Regions from separate parts of the Homo sapiens genome. Here region 2 is linked to region 1. The links come from fine-mapping of genetic effects on gene expression. Tissue or cell type: stomach. Region 1 holds a variant in brackets; the other region holds the start of a gene. All regions are shown on one strand. Distances are between the middles of the regions.

Region 1 (8,104 bases):
GGCGTGAGCCACTGTGCCCGGCCGTCTTGTTTTATTTTAATGGCTGATCTATGTAATCACGGAGGCCAGTATGTACAGACAAGAAAGGGGGAGCTTTTATTGCTTCTCTCTTCCTCCTTGGACAAAGTCTTGATATCACCTCCTTCTTGGCCTGAGTGTACTCTTCAGCCACTTGTGTGCTTGCTTGTTCTCAGACCTGTGGGCCTCAGCCTGGGCAGCCAGGAGCTTCTTTTGGGCCTTTTCTGCCTTCAGCTCGTGGACGTGCTCCATGAGGATGTGCTCCATGAGAATCTGCTTGTTTTGAACACATTTGCTTTCACCTTCAGGTACAAGCTGGGATACATTTGGTGGTCAATCTTCTTAACTTCATGGGATCTTCTGAGCAGCCCGTGCAGAATCCTCATTCTCCTCATCCAAGTTACCTTCTCTGGCATTCAGGCATTGGCCATACCCTTTAGCTTACCTATGTCCATGTACTCACCCTTCCAGCAGGCCAAGGCATTTTTCCAGCATCGAGCCCGGAAATGGACAGTCACAGGCTTGTGGATGTTCAGCCTATCTTTGATCAGCTTCTGGATCTGCTGATGGGAGGTGGCATTGGTGATTTCACTGGTCTCCTTGGAGTGCAATTAGACCTTCTCCTTGCCACAGCAAAGGACATGAGAGGTGAGCCTCTTCTGAAGCCTGCGCATACTCATGGCTTCGGCTGCAGCAGCAGCTAAAGGAAAGAGCTCTGAGGTTCCCAGTTTCTTGTCGGCTGTTGCTGGGGGCCATCTCAACTGCTAGGGGCCCGTGGCGTGGCCCTCTCACAGCAGGAGGATCTCGCTCCCGTGTGCTGAGGCAGTCTTATAGAACAGTGAAGGGGGGGAGTATCTTATTGCCTTGGCCTAATCACAAGAGTGACGTCTGTCAGATTCACAGCCCCCACTCAATGGAAGGAAATTAGGCAACTGAGTGCACTGAGGGGTGAGAATCTTGGGGCCATCTTATAATTCTGCCTCCCATTGCAGTTTTTGCTAATAGACATCTGCCCACGAAGATCCATGTTCTTCCCTTCCTTGTTCACTTGATATTTGCTACAAAGCAGCCCAGTCTGTCCACGCTGGAGGCTAGGTATGGCATGGCATGTTCCCAGCAGAACTAGAACTGGAGCATGAACCATGCTGGCTACCACTGCCTGGAGGACCATGCACAGTCTATAGTCCCTGGTGGATTCCAGAGCCACCAAGGCATGCAGGAGGCTCCTCCCTGTCTTCCCTCTCTCTGGGCTGCTCATCTGGAACTCCTGAGCTCAGGTGATCCGCCCACCTCTGCCTCCCAAAGTGCTGGGATTACAGGCATGAGCCACCATGCCCAGCCTGGGCACCTCATCTGATTTAGGACCCTGGAATAGAATTGCTCTGAGAATTATCAATGAAGGAATAGATTTTACCCCTGCATCTGCTGGTTCCATTGCCCCTCATCCGGCTCCCAGGAAAGCTTTGAATTGTGGGCAAAACCAGGTGGCACTGGCAGAGACATTCTTGGGGTTGGTGTCTCCCCTAAAACACACTGTGCCTTCTAGAGAGGTTCCCTAGAAGTCGCGATCTTTGCTGAGAAATATCCACACATGCTTTGCCACATTGTCAATCATAGGAACATGCTGCCCAACAAATATTTGTGGCATAGTAAAATGTTTTTAAAAGCAGTTGCTATGGATTGAACGTATCCCCCCCCAACTCCCCGCCATCAATTCATGTGTCCTGATGTGATGGTATTTAGAAACAGGCCTTCTGGAGGTGATTAGGTCATGAGGATAGAGCCCTCATGCATGGGATTAGTGCCCTTACAAGACGAGACAGAAAAGAGCTTCCTCTCTCTCTCAGGAATAATGGTGCTCAGGAGAACCCAGCCATACTGGCACCCTGATCCTAGACTTACAACTCCCAGAACTGTCGGAAATACATGTTTGTTGTTTAGGCCACACAATCTGTGGCAGACAAGCTAACTAAAACTGCAGTCTTGCAGGCTAGTGTCTCCCTAGTTAGGATTTGATCTCAGAGCCTCAAGGGCTGGGCATGGCTCTTGCCTCAAGGATTGAAGTTGCAGGGAGGGACATGGAGGCCTGTCCAGGACCTGGGAGTTGTGCCTTGGTACAGTGCCCTGGCCGCTCTGTCCTGTGCCCCCGGGGCTGCCCATCCCATGTGTGATTCCTACTGGCTGCACTGTGCAGGCAGGACCAAGCTGTCGGCTTGAGAAATGCTTTGCACTGTCCCAATTTCTAATATACACACTGACTTTTGCCTTCTCACATTGTCTGTTCTAATTTTTAAAATTTAATTTAGGAAAGATGGAAACTGAAAGGAAGGGTTAGAAGACCTGAGTCTGAGTTCAGTTCATCCTCAACATAGACTAATTTTTTTGTGGTTTTTTTTTTGTTTTTTTTTTTGAGACGGAGTCTCACTCTGTCACCAGGCTGGAGTGCAGTGGCTCGATCTCGGCTCACTGTAATCTCTGCCTCCCGGGTTCAAGCGATTCTCCTGCCTCAGCCTCCTGAGTAGCTGGGACTACAGGTGCCCACCACCACGCCCAGCTAATTTTTTGTATTTTTAGTAGCGACAGGGTTTCACCATGTTGGCCAGGATGGTCTCGATTTCCTGACCTCGTGATCCACCCTCTTCAGCCTCCCAAAGTGCTGGGATTACAAGCGTGAGTTACCATGCCCGGCCCAGGCTAATGTTTTTTTTTTAACAGCTTGACTGAGATTTATTTCATTTAGTGCAAAGTTCACTCTTTTAAAGTATGCAGTTCAGGCCAGGAGTGGTGGCTCACATCTGTAATCCCAGCACTTTGGGAGGCTGAGGTGGGCAGATCACTTGAGGTCAGGAGTTCAAGACCAGACTGGCCAATGTGGTGAAACCCTGTCTCCACTAAAAATATAAAAATTAGCTGGGCCTGGTGGTGGATGCCTGTAATCCCAGCTACTTGGGAGGCTGAGGCAGGAGAATTGCTTGAACCTGGAAGGCAGAGGGCCAGGCATCGTGGCTCACGCCTGTAATCCCAGCACTTTGGGAGGCTGAGGTGGGAGGATCATGAGGTCAGGAGATCGAGACCATCCTGGCGAACACGATGAAACCCCATCTCTACTAAAAATACAAAAGAATTAGCCAGGCATGGTGGCAGGCGCCAGTAGTCCCAGCTACTCAGGAGGCTGAGGCAGGAGAATGGTGTGAACCCGGGAGGCGGAGCTTGCAGTGAGCTGAGATCGCGCCACTGCACTCCAGCCTGGGCAACAGAGCGAGACTCCGTCTCAAAAAAAACCAAAAAAACAGAACCTGGAAGGCAGAGGTTGCAGTGAGTCGAGATCGTGCCACTGCACTCCAGCCTGGGTGACAGAGTGAGGGAGACTCTGTCTCAAAAAAATAAAAAATAATAAAATATGCAATTTAGTGCTTTTTGTATATTCACAAAGTTTACAACCATCACCACTATCAAATTTTCTAACATTTTCTTTTTTCTTTTCTTCTTTTTTTTTTTTTTTTTTTTAAGACCGAGTCTGGCTCTGTTGCCCAGGCTGGAGGGCAGTGGCACAATCTTGGCTCACTGCAACCTCCACCTCCTGGGCTCAAGTCATCCTCTCTCACCTCAGCCTCCCAAGTAGCTGAGACTACAGGCTCATGCCACTATGCCCCACTAATTTTTGTACTTTTTGTGAGACGGGGTTTTGCCATGTTGCCCAGGCTGTTCTCAAACTCCTGAGCTCAAGTGATTCACCTGCCTCAGCCTCCTAAAGTGCTGGGATTACAGGCATGAGCCACTGTGCCCAGCCTCTAACATTTTCATTCCCCATAAAGAAACCTCGTACCCACAAGCAGTCTTCCCCCTCCTGCTGCCCCAGCTCCTGGAACCACCAATCTACTTTCTGCATCTATACAGTTTCCTATTCTGGCCATTTTTAAAGAACAGAATCACACAATATGTGTCTGGCTTCTTGCTCTTAGCATAATGTTTTTCAGTTTGTTTATATTGTAGTGTGCGTAAGAACTTCACTCTTTTTTCTTTTTCTTTTCTTTTTCTTTTTTTTTTTTTTTTGAGACAGCCTCGGTCTGTAGCCCAGGCTGGAGTGCAGTGGTGCGATCTCGACTCACTGCAAACTCCGCCTCCCGGGTTCACGCCATTCTCCTGCCTCAGTCTCATGAGTAGCTGGGATCACAGGCATCCGCCACCACGCCCAGCTAAATTTTTGTATTTTTAGTAGAGACGGGGTTTCACCATGTTGGCCAGGATGGCCTCGATCCCCTGACCTCATGATCTGCCCCCTTGGCCTCCCAGAGTGACTTCATTCTTTTTTGTTGCTGAAAAATATTTAATTGTACAGATAGACCACATTTTGTTTATCCATTTGTTGGTTAATGGACATTTGGGTTGTTTCCACCTTCTGGCTCTTATGAATGGTGCTGCTAAGAACATTAGTGTGCAGGTTTTTGTGTGTACATGTGTTTTCAGTTCTCTTGCATGTACACCTAGGAGTGGACTTGCTGGGTCATACAGTAACTCTATGTTTAACTTTCTGAGGAACCGTCAGATTGTTTTCCAAAACAGCCGCA[C/T]CGTTTCACTCACTCTTGCCTCTTTGCATTCCCACAGCCCTTGGTGTCCACTTGCTACCTCTGGCCGTGTTTCTTAGCTCCTTGCCTGTGGGCCTGTTTCCCTCAAGAGAGCTGGAACCTGACGGCGATGAGTGTGTATTTCTTTTTTGTGTGGAGACGGGGACTCACTATGTTGTCCAGGCTGCTCTTGAACTCCTGGACTCAAGCAATCTGCCTGCCTCATGCTCCCAAAGTGTTGGAATTACAGGCATGAGCCATCATGACTGGCCTGGATGAGTGTGTTTTACTTATTTTATTTAATTATTTTATTTATTTATTTTATTTAATTAATTAATTTTTGAGACAGGATCTTGCTCTGTCAACCAGGCTGGAGTGCGGTGGCGCGATCTCGGCTCACTGCAAACTCCGCCTCCCGGATTCAAGCGATTCTCCTGCCTCAGCCTCCTGAGTAGCTGGGATTACAGGCGCATGCCACCATGCCTGACTAATGATGAGTGTGTTTTAATCCGGAGTCATATTTATTTTAACATCCTCAGTTTCCTCATGTGTACAAAGGAAACAAGGTATGGAGCTGACAGGTAATCTCACCAGGAAAGTTTTGCTTCATGAAAGCTATTCCCTGGCTAGTCTGGGAGATGGCCCCCCAAAACTACTTGTGCGGTATTTCTGGTCAGGAGCAAGAGAAGAAAATCCTGACAAGTTCTCTTAACCCTTAACAAAGTTGGATTCTATTCTATTTTCCAATTAAGTTATAATTATTCATCAACTATGAGAGCCAATAAGCAAGAGTTGCTATATCATGTGGCTTTATTTTCTGGGATACAGGTCTGGCATTTCTTTCTTTGATGTCCTCTTCCATAAGGTTCTCTGGGAGCAAGCCACGCCCACAGGCTCAGTCTCCCAGCACCCCCATAGTTTCTCCTCTGCCTCAGCCGGCACCTCTGTCGTCTGCGTTCACAAGTCTTCCATTTTTCCATTATGTGACGCATTCTTTGTTTTGTTTTCTGTTACTGAGTTTTGCTCTTCCTTCAGTTTCTTCTTAATATTTTTGCTTCTTTTTGATATAATAACTAAAATGTAGAAATGATGTTATTGAGATAGTAATAAGTGAGGAATAAAAATGGAGACAAAAGGGGTGAGGGAAAAAGCCTGGAAAAATAGAGGTACCAACAGTGGAATTTTCAGAGGATTCATAATGAATGTTATTTGTCTGACAAGGATGGTGAAAATTAAATTTTAAAATTATTTTCCCATATTTTGTATTCAAGTTGTATAAATGCCCAGTAAAAGAAGAAGAAGAATGTAGAAAATTTATAATCCAATGTGGTAAAGAGACATTGGGAAAATGTTTTCTACAGGTTATGACAAAGTCCTCTGCCTCAGTGAGCATCAGTGATCTCTCCTGCTGTGGCTGTTCTGCCTCTTTCTGGCTATGTCTGGAGTTTTTAGAGAGTGAGTCCATGTGAGGATGGTTAGTATGTCTGAATCACACACTACACTCTCTATAGTTTTCTCTCTAGAATTTTTTAAACAGGTACCCACGAATCTCAGAACTTCTAGGCTGGGCTCAGTGGCTCACACCTATAATCCCAGCACTTTGGGAGGCCAAGACGGGAAGATCTCTTAAGCCCAGGAGTTTGTGACCAACCTGGGCAACATGGTGAAAACTGTCTCTACTAAAAATACAAAAACTAGCCCGGCGCAGTGGCTCATGCCTGTAATCCCAGGACTTTGGGAGGCTGAACAGGGCGGATCACTTGAAGTCAAGAGTTCGAGACCAGCCTGGCCAACATGGTGAGACCCCCCATCTCTACTAAAAATACAAAAATAAGACAGGCGTGGTGGCATGTGCCTGTAATCCCAGCTACTCGGGAGGCTGAAGCATGAGAATCACTTGAACCCAGGAGGCGGAGGTTACAGTGAACCAAGATCACACCACTGCACTCCAGCCTGGGCAACAGAGCGAGACTCCATCTCAAAAAGAAACCACAAACAAAAATGAGCCCGGCATAGTGACATGCACCGTAGTCCCAGCAACTCAGGAGGCTGAGGTGGGAGGATTAACTGAGCCCAGGAGGTTGGGGCTTCAGTGAGCTGATATTGCACCACTGCACTCCAGCCTGGGTGACGTAGTGAAACTCTGCCTCAAAAAAAAAAAAAAAAAGAAAAAAGAAAAAAAAGGCCAGGAGCGGTGGCTCACACCTGTACTCCTAGCACTTTGGGAGGCCGAGGCGGGTGGATCAATTGAGGTCAGGAGTTCGAGACCAGCCTGGCTAACTGGTGAAACTCCGTCTCTACTAAAAATACAAAAATTAGCCAGGGGTCATGGTGCACGCCTGTAATCCCAGCTACTCGGGAGGCTGAGGCAGGAGAATTGCTTGAACCCAGGAGGCAAAGGTTGCAGTGAGCCAAGATTTCGCCACTGCACTACAGCCTGGGTGACATAGGGAGACTCTGTCTCAAAAAAAAAAGATAAATAAATAAAATAAATTCTACAGGCGGGGTGCATTGGCTTATGCCTGTAATCCCAGCACTTTGGGAGGCTGAGGTGGGTGGATTACAAGGTCAGGAGATCGAGACCATCCTGGCTAACACGGTGAAACCCCGTCTCTACTAAAAATACAAAAAGTTAGCTGGGTGTGGTGGCGGGTGCCTATAGTCCCAGCTACTCGGGAGGCTGAGGCAGGAGAATGGCGTGAACCCGGGAGGCAGAGCTTGCAGCGAGCTGAGATCATGCCACTGCACTCCAGCCTGGGCAACAGAGCAAGACTCCGCCTCAAAAAAAAAAAAAAAAAAAAGAACTTCTACAAAATCAGTTTTAAATAATCAATTTCATCCTCTTCTCACAAGGACAGCAGAACATGTCTGTGGTGGGCATGGCATGCTGGGAAATTTTACCCTGGGGTAGTGACCTCTATTTTGTGGGTCTGGATCCCATTTTCACGTCAGATGGAGACAGATGGTGCAGGTGAAACATCTGCGTGTCTGTGTTCTGAATGCAGGATAACATCACGGTAATGAGTATGTTTAACGGAAACATGTTTTGTGCTGGGAAAAGTTTGTTTCCTGAACTCTGTTAGATCCGTGGAATTGCCCTGCAAAAGGAACTGAGCAACCCCACAGCTGTTCACCCCTCTGTAAGATTTGATGAGAAAGGTTCATTTCCGTAAGTGTGGCTGTGAATATTTGTCTCTCTTACTTCAAACTCCCTTAACTCCCACTTATCTTTGCCTTTGAAAACCAAGCCACAGGCCAGGCGCGGTGGCTCACGCCTGTAATCCCAGCACTTTGGGAGGCCGAGGCGGGCGGATCACGAGGTCAGGAGATCGAGACCATCCTGGCACCCGAGCGTTGGTGGTATAGTGGTGAGCATAGCTGCCTTCCGAGACCATCCTGGCTAAAATGGTGAAACCCCGTCTCTACTAAAAATACAAAAAATTAGCCGGGCATGGTGGCGGGCGCCTGTACTCCCAGCTACTCGGGAGGCTGAGGCAGGAGAATGGCGTGAATCTGGGAGG
Region 2 (8,104 bases), 46 kb after region 1:
CTGCAGGCCTACCCTACCCGTCTCAGGTTTCTCCTGTCCCACACTGCACGTGTGGCTCCAGGTAGGCCGTGAGATCTCCTTAGCTGAGTGAATAACCCTGGAAAAGGGTCTGGGAGCTCCTCAGGGTGAAGGCTCACACCTGTCCTTGTTCCCTTCACAGCAGGCACAGCAGGCACTGCACAGCATCAGCCTAAATCGGGTGCTAAAGACATGAGTGAAGGTGGCAATAGAGAAGTGGGGCTGCCAGCCAAAAGGGCTGCCCTTCATGCCCCACAACAAGCCAGGGAGAGTTGGAGCTCAGTACTGTGGACAGACTGGTTGACACTAAGGCTCCGAATCACTAAAAACGGCCTAATTCTCCCTACCTGCTCTCAGGAAGGATTAACTTCCAGTTGCTTCCTTCCCTACCCAAACTCCAACTGTTGTAAACTGGAGAGCCGCATCAACTGGGATGACCAGGGATAACCTGGACATCATCCTCTGGGAACAGGACAGCCCCATCTCACCTGAACCTGGGCTGCTGGGAGCCCAGTGGCCCTCCTCCCCTCCTCCAGGCTTCCCTCCACGTGCCAGGCAGGATACTGAGGACACAGAGCTAGGAAACGAGAAAAAAGTCATGGAGGCAGCTCTCGCTGCCAGGAGCTCACCTTTTCTTCTGGGGGGCTGAGAACCAGCCCCTGCCCCTCCCCCTTGAATGAGGAAAGAGACCCACTTCCTCATTCTATAGATGAAGGAATTAGGGCTCAGAGAAGGTTAGGAAAGTACCTAAACACATGAATCTCTCATTGGCCCCCCCTGTGCTATTGGGTACCATCTCTGAGAAGCAGTGTCTGGTCACAACCTTCCTGGGCCTGAACCCTAAACGGCCACACATGAATTCTCATGCATCTTGAGATGTCACCATCACCTTACTGCTCACTGGTTTTCTTTTTTTTTTTGAGACTGAGTCTCGCTCTGTCGCCCAGGCTGGAGTGCAGTGGCACGATCTTGGCTCACTGCACGCTCCGCCTCCTGGCTTCACGCCATTCTCCTGCCTCAGCCTCCCGAGCAGCTGGGACTACAGGCGCCCACCACCACGCCCAGCTAATTTTTTGTATTTTGTTTTAGTAGAGACGGGGTTTCACCGTGTTAGCCAGGATGGTCTCGATCTCCTGACCTCGTGATCCACTCGCCTCGGCCTCCCAAAGTGCTGTAGGCGTGAGTCACCACGCCTGGCCACTAGTTTTCTGATTCCTCCTTGTTCCAGCTCTGCACAGAGACAGATCTGGACCACCTGCCCTAAAGCCCCACCTGGTCCCCATTCTATTCCCCAGCTGTGGCAGAGCACTACAGCCAGAGGCCACAATATGGCAGCCCACAGCTGACCAGGCTCTTGACTCACCCCAGGAGGCCCATGGGTCAACAGCTGTCATCCCCCAAGATTGGTCCGTAAGGGCACCTGCACAGAAGGATCAGGTTAGGACTGTGACACCAAACCTAGTGATTCAAGGCGACAAAATACAAGAGGAGGCTGACTCGCTAATGGGCACTACAAAATTCCATAAACAGAGCCCAAGGGTGTGTAAAAAAAATGCAACATAAGCTGGATTCACACAGGCAATGCACAGGTGAGTCACTATTAATTAACACCGTTTTAAAATTACCAACCAATGCTATATAAGTAAAAACAATAAAGGTAAAAATATATATGAGAGCAGTAGAGACAATATTTTATTATATGTATCACTGTTGTTTAGGAAACCCCACAAACCACCAGAAAAATCCCTTAAAACTAATGACACCTCTCAGGAGATGACTATAAAACATAAAAGTTAGTGTCTTTTATGCCAACAATTTTCCTCCTTTACCACCAATCAGTTCTAATTTTGTACCAAGATAGACAGACCCCCTTCCATCCTCAAAAGTCCTCAGCCCATCACCAGCTCTGACCCATGACTGCAGCAGCTAATGATAGGGGAGGCCCAGGAGAAACACAACTTGGACTCACCCCAGGAGGCCCACGGGTTGATGGCTGCCATCCCGAGGACTGATTGACCAGGCACCTGCCCAGGAACACAGCAAATCCCAACCTAGTGACAAAAGTGAAAAAAGACAAAACTAGTCCTTTCTCACAGAAGACCAAGTGGGAACAAAGAAGGGAATCCATCCACCGAAGCAACAAAAAAACTTGTAAGGAGCATCGTAAGAAAAGAGAATTTACATGTCAAAAAAGTAACACAATTCCTGGAGAGAAATGAAAGGTAATTTGCATAAGCTGGAAAAAAGAGCATGATCCTGAATGAGAGGGTACAAATTTGTCAGCTATTCCCAAGAGACAGCCAGTCACAACACAGATGGAACTTTTGGATTAATCTGACAATTATTGTAAAATCAACTTGCAATCCTCATATATTAGTGGTTGCCTAGAGCTGGGGGAAAAATGAAATGGGGAGTGACTGCTTAAGGGGAACAAGGGTTTCTTTGTGGGGTGATGAAATGTTCTAAAATTAGATAATGGGGATGATTGCACAACTTTATTAATATACAATAAAACCGGTGAATTGCACACTTTTAAGTGCTTAAAGTGAACATTATGTTATGCAAATTTAATCCCACCTCCAAAAAAAATTCACCTCCAAGATTTACTAAGCCTAAGCTTGTGTGTGTGTGGAGGACTTAGAGATGGGCCTGGCGCCCAGACCCCTAACTCCTCAGGTTCCAGATCTTTGTACAAGTCAGCAACCTCTCGAATGGATTCCTGGGTATGTGTATAAAGCACTAGAACACACAGTGGGCCTCAGGAGCACCGGAATCAGCGCGAAAACGCAGAATGCAAACCGTACTTTGCACCATTATTTGCAACTTGACAGTGACCGCCGCCGTCACTGCATGTTTAAGGGAACCCGGAGCTGTTTCCAACCCAGGTCTGACGTCCTTCACAGTGCTTTGTGTGAACTGGCAGGGGGAGAAACGACGGCTGGGGAACGAACGGGGTTATTCGTCCCATCAATGGCCTCAGAAGCATCCTTATCACCTGCTTCCAGAGCTCCCGACCCAAATTTCCTCCTCAAGACCGACGCGGCCGCGACGCTGCAAAAGCTCGTCCCGGCCTCACCTGGCTCGCGGCCGGCGGTCCCCCTTGAAGGCGGCGCAGCAGGATCGGGGTCTGCCCGCCTGGGGCGTTTGGCTTTTGTCCCGCGCCGAGGTCCGGCCCAGGAGTGCGCTTGGGAGCTCCCGGCGCGGCCTCGGGGACAAAGGCCCGCGGAGCCGACGTGCAGCAGAGTTCACCCAGGCCCGTCCGACCAGAAAACGAAGAACGCCCGGAGGCGGGAGGCCGGAGGCAGGCTGCTGGCTGGAGAACCGACGGCAACGACGGCGCAAAGCCGGCGCGGAAAGGGCAGGCGCAGGACCCACCCTGACGCCGCCTCTCCCAGCCGGCTCTCCTGACCCCCCAAGCCCCGCAGCTACGGCGGCCCCACAGCCTGAGCAAAGGCCTCACCTCAGCCGCGGACAATGGCGGCTGCTTCCCCGGCGTCGACCGGAGCGCGCCGCGGGGTCTGCTGGGAGCTGTAGTTCCAGGCGGGCACTTCCGGCGTCGGGCAGCGGCGCCGCCATGACAGGTTCCTGGGCCGCGCCGCCTCGCCCTGCCTGGGCGGGGTTGGGACCTTTCTGGCACCTGCGTCGAAGCCGGCGGCAGGATGGACTTTGTTGTCCCGGTCCCAGACCACCCTCCTCCACCGTCGCCTCCCACTGCAAAAAGGCCTGGGTAAGTCGCGGCCCCGCGGGCCTCGGTTTGCCCATCCGCAAAATGGCGCCTCGTGGTACCGGGTTTCCCGGGAGGAGCTCGGCGAGTTCTCAGCGCTCTCGAGGGATCCTTCCATTTGGCGTTCGCAAGATTGTGAGAAAGTGACTGCTGTTATTCTCTTTAAGATAAGGAACCTAATTCGAGCTACCCTTCTCTGTGAAGCTCGACGGCTGAGAACGTCAGGGCTCGTTCCCAAGTCTCTTTCCAGAGGCCAGGCTTTATGGGAGCATGGGTTACCAGCGACGCACCCTGTGAGTTTTCCTCTATCGATATGCATGGAGCGGTTCGGGAGCGGTGGCTCATTCCTGTAGTCCCAGCACTTCGGGAAGCTGTGGCGGGAGGATCAGTTGAGTTCAGGAGTTCGACACCACCCTGGGCAACATAGCGAGACCACATCTCTACAAAAAAAATACAAAAATTAGCCCGGTGTGATGGCGCGCGCCTGTAGTCCCCGCTACTTAGGAGGTTGCGGTGGAAGGATTGCTTGAGCCTGGGAGGTCAAGGTTGCAGTGAGCTATGATCGCACCACTGCACTTCAGCCTGGGCAACAGAGCAAGACCCGGCATTAAAACAAACAAAAACGGGCCGGGCGCGGTGGCTCACAGCTGTAATCCCAGCACTTTGGGAGGCCAAGGCAGGTGGATCGCCTGAGGTCAGGAGTTCCGAGACCAGTCTGGGCAACATGATAAAACCTCGTCTCTACTAAAAATACCAAAAATTAGCCGGGCTTGGTGGAGGGCACCTGTACCCAGCTACTTGGGAGGCTGAGGCAGGAGAATCGCTTGAACCCGGGAAGCGGAGGCTACAGTAAGCCGAGATCAAGCCATTGCACTCCAGCCTGGGCAGCAGGGCAAGACTCTGTCTCAAAAAAAGGGACTGAGGGACTGTAGGTGGTGATACCAAAGAAAGCATGGCCATTTAGGAAGCTAGACTTGAGTGAGCAGTGGGCAAGAGAGATTTTGAAGATATTTCCACTAGTAATGGAGGATCATTTTAAAAAGCTGGCCTGTGGGTTGGGCTTTTGTTGTTGGGTGGTGTTGGCACTCACTGTGGGTGGGCAAAGGGGAGTAGCCCTTTCAGAGGGAGAGGAAAAGTTCAAGTAGGACAGGCTGAATTCAAGGGAGAGGAAAATTTCAAGTAGGACAGGCTGAATTCGAGGGAGAGGACCATGAGAGAGGTAAGGTGGAAGGGGCAAGGTGTTGGGACAGGCCCCAGCTGGCAGGAAGGTGAACCCAGTCAGAGTGGGCACTGAGAGGAAAGCAATCTATGGATGGTACAGCCACAATTTCCATCTCAGGATCAAGCAGAGAAAGAGAGGCTGGAGAAGGAAGAGTGACAGAAGTAAGAAGAGAGTGTCTCTCCACTTCCACTCCAGCCCCCTACAGCTCATCCTCCAGCAGGCAGCCAAGGGCACTTTTAGGATCTCACATCAGGTCCTTGCCTCACATTCTGCACTGGCTTCCCAAGTAATTAAAGTAAAATCCAAATTCCAGCTCACAGCTTAGAAAACTCAGCAGGACTGGCCTCTGTCCTATCCCACACCCCACCTCAGTCCCTCAAGCTCATCTCCTGTCATTCCTGCCCATTTCTGGACCCCAGCCACTCCTCAAACAGGGTAAGTCCATTCCTGCTTCAGGGCCTTTGTACGTATTGTTTCCTCTTCCTGGAATCTTCTTCCTTGTACAGCCCCAGGGTTTTCTTTTTTTCATCCAGATCACAGCACAGATGTCACATCCTGGTAACAGCCAGCTGTGACTCATCTCCCTAATTCTCAATTGTATTACTCTCTTTTTATTTTCTTCGTATCGTAACTGATAGTCTCATACAGTACAGAAGCCAAGTTTTAAGATATGCAATCACCAAATACCTGCTACACAAACCTCAATGTTCATATAAAATAAGACTAGAATTCATATTCTAAAGAGAGATGAGGTAGCTCTGTTCACTTTTGAGAGGGAACTCAAATGAGAGAGATACCTTTGACCTAAAGGTGTCAGGAAACCAGATGAAGAAAAACACCCCTGCTATGATTTGAATGTTTTTATCCTCTCCAAAATTCATGTTGAAACTTACTCCCCAGTGCAGTAGTGTTGGGAGGCAGGGTCTAATGGGATTTATGGAGGTCATAAGGCTCTGCTGTCATGAATGGATTAATGTTGTAAACCAAAAAATAAAATTCTAAGCCCCCCACCCCCCAACCATATGAATAGACCCCTCCTCTCAGCCAAGGGCATTCCAAAGTTAATTTGAAAAATGAGTTCGGGCCATGATGGGAAGCAGAAGCTGGACTTGCCTCATTATACCCTCCTCCCTTCTAGAATTAGTGATAGAACAGACTCTTTAAGTCTGATAAGAAACATTTACAGTCTGTTATCTCCGGAGGTTTCATCTGCTTGGTAAAACCTTGAGTTCCACAACCCCAGACATTCCTTTCTATTGACAATAACTCTTTAAATCAATTGGCAATCAGAAATCTTTAAATCTGCCTATAACCTGGAAACTTTCTGTACCAGTATACATCTTATATGTATTGATTGATGTCTCATGTCTCCCTAAGATGTATAAAAGCAAGCTGAACCCTAACCACCCTGGGCATGTCCTCAGGATCTCCTGAGAGCTGCGTCAGGGGCCACTGGTCACCATATTTGGCTCAGAGTAAATCTCTTCAAATATTTTACAGAGTTTGACTCTTCGTCAACAATGCCATTGTAAAAGGTTCATGGAGAGATTCTGCATGTGCTTGCATTCTCTTTCTCTCTCTCTCTTTCTTTCTCTCCCCCCACCCCCACCCTCCACCACCCTGCCCTTTACCTTCTGTCAGGTGAGGATGCAGTGTCCAAGGCACCATCTTGAACTCATCATCGCCAAATATGTGAGCACCTTGATGTTGGACTTCCCAACCTCCAGACCGTAAGGCAGTACATTTCTTTGTAAATTACGCAGTCTCAGCTATTCTGTTACAGCAGCACAAATGGACTAAGACAACCCCCGAGATAGGAAGGGGTAAGGTAAATGCAATGAGAGTTGGGGTTTTCGATCTTAGTCCAGTAAAGGAGCTGGAACTGTTCTGTATAAACAAAGGGCAAGGTAATTGCTACATAGATTCTTTTCTTATTATTGCTGATTCTTATCCTAAAATAAAGGACATTGCCACTACACATCCTCTAGAATGACCAAAAATAAAAATACAGCATCAAATGGGACGACATGGTGCCAACTGGAATTCTCATACCCTGCTGATGGGAGTATAATGTGGTACAGTCACTTTGGAAAAAAGTTTGACAATTTCTTATAAAATTATACATAAACCTGTACTATGACCTAGAGATTCTACTCCTGTTTGTTCAAAAGAAAGGCAAACATCTGTCCACTAAAAGATATGTACAAGAATGCTCACAGTGGCATTATTTATGACGGTCCAAACCAGGAGATAATCCAAATGTCTGTAACCAAGAGAATGGATAAAGAAATTTTGATACGTCAATTTAATGGATTACTACTTAGCAATAAAAATAATTAGCCATGCTGGGCGCGGTGGCTTATGCCTGTAATCCCAGCACTTTGGGAGGCTGAGGCAGGTGGATCACCTGAGGTTGGGAGTTCAAGACCAGCCTGACCAACATGGAGAACCCCCGTCTCTACTAAAATACAAAATTAGCCGGGGTGGTGGCGCATGCCTGTAATCCCAGCTACTCGGGAGGCTGAGGCAGGAGAATCACTTGAACCCGGGAGGTGGAGGTTGCATTGAGCCGAGATTGCGCCATTGCACTCCAGCATGGGCAAAAAGAGCAAAACTCCGTCTCAAAAAAATAAATAAATAATAATTAGCCACATATCCACACAACAATATTGCATTATCACAGGTATAGTGATAAATACTGTATGATTCCATTTATATGAAGTTCAAGAACAGGCAAGTAATCCATGATGAAAGAAGTACTTACCTCTGGGGGTGGCAGCATTGACTAAAGAGGTACAAGGGAGTCTTCTGGGGCCTGGAAATGTTCTATATCTTGATCTGGGTGGTGGTTACACAGGTATACGCGTGTTAAGAAATCATCAGGCTGTATACTTAGTGTACTGTAATGGCATTACACTGTCTTTCAATTAAAATGTGAAAGAAAAAACGGGGGTGTCTTTTGCTTCCACATTTGTAGCCCCAGCTTCTGTATCTCCTGCGTGATAATGGTTGGATGAATTAAAAGGTAGGAGGAATAGAAGAGGAGAAAAGCAATAGGAAGAGGAAGGCTGGAAGAAAAGCCCAGCTCCACTGTCTCACTTGGGTGTCACTGGGTACTGGGGAATTTGGAAGCACTAGGG

Evidence for each region. PIP is the estimated chance that this variant, and not a neighbour inherited with it, causes the effect.
Region 2: it holds the start of ZNF606-AS1, and the variant in region 1 is fine-mapped to the expression of ZNF606-AS1 in stomach (GTEx, PIP above 0.99). The same link has a PIP of 0.9 or more in esophagus muscle, ileum, left ventricle, subcutaneous fat, sun-exposed skin and transverse colon.

The regions. Positions count from the first base shown.
Region 1 is chr19:57,953,062-57,961,165 of GRCh38, forward strand. It overlaps C19orf18 (chromosome 19 open reading frame 18), which reads right to left. Exons shown (of 6, transcript NM_152474.5): 6 at 5,376-5,656. The coding sequence ends at 5,541. It also overlaps the pseudogene RPL19P19. Among named protein-coding and RNA genes, the nearest start is that of ZNF256, 9.4 kb to the left of the region's middle. RefSeq lists a silencer at 1,891-2,058. The variant C/T (reference allele first, on the strand shown) is at 4,587.
Region 2 is chr19:57,999,302-58,007,405 of GRCh38, forward strand. ZNF606-AS1 (ZNF606 antisense RNA 1) reads left to right here and starts at 3,593. Exons shown (of 4, transcript NR_036508.1): 1 at 3,593-3,745; 2 at 3,910-4,035; 3 at 5,082-5,399; 4 at 6,606-7,905. It overlaps ZNF606 (zinc finger protein 606), which reads right to left and starts at 3,519. Exons shown (of 7, transcript NM_001348022.3): 1 at 3,095-3,519; 2 at 1,988-2,069; 3 at 1,382-1,438; 4 at 507-595. The coding sequence starts at 2,018. RefSeq lists an enhancer at 3,451-3,870.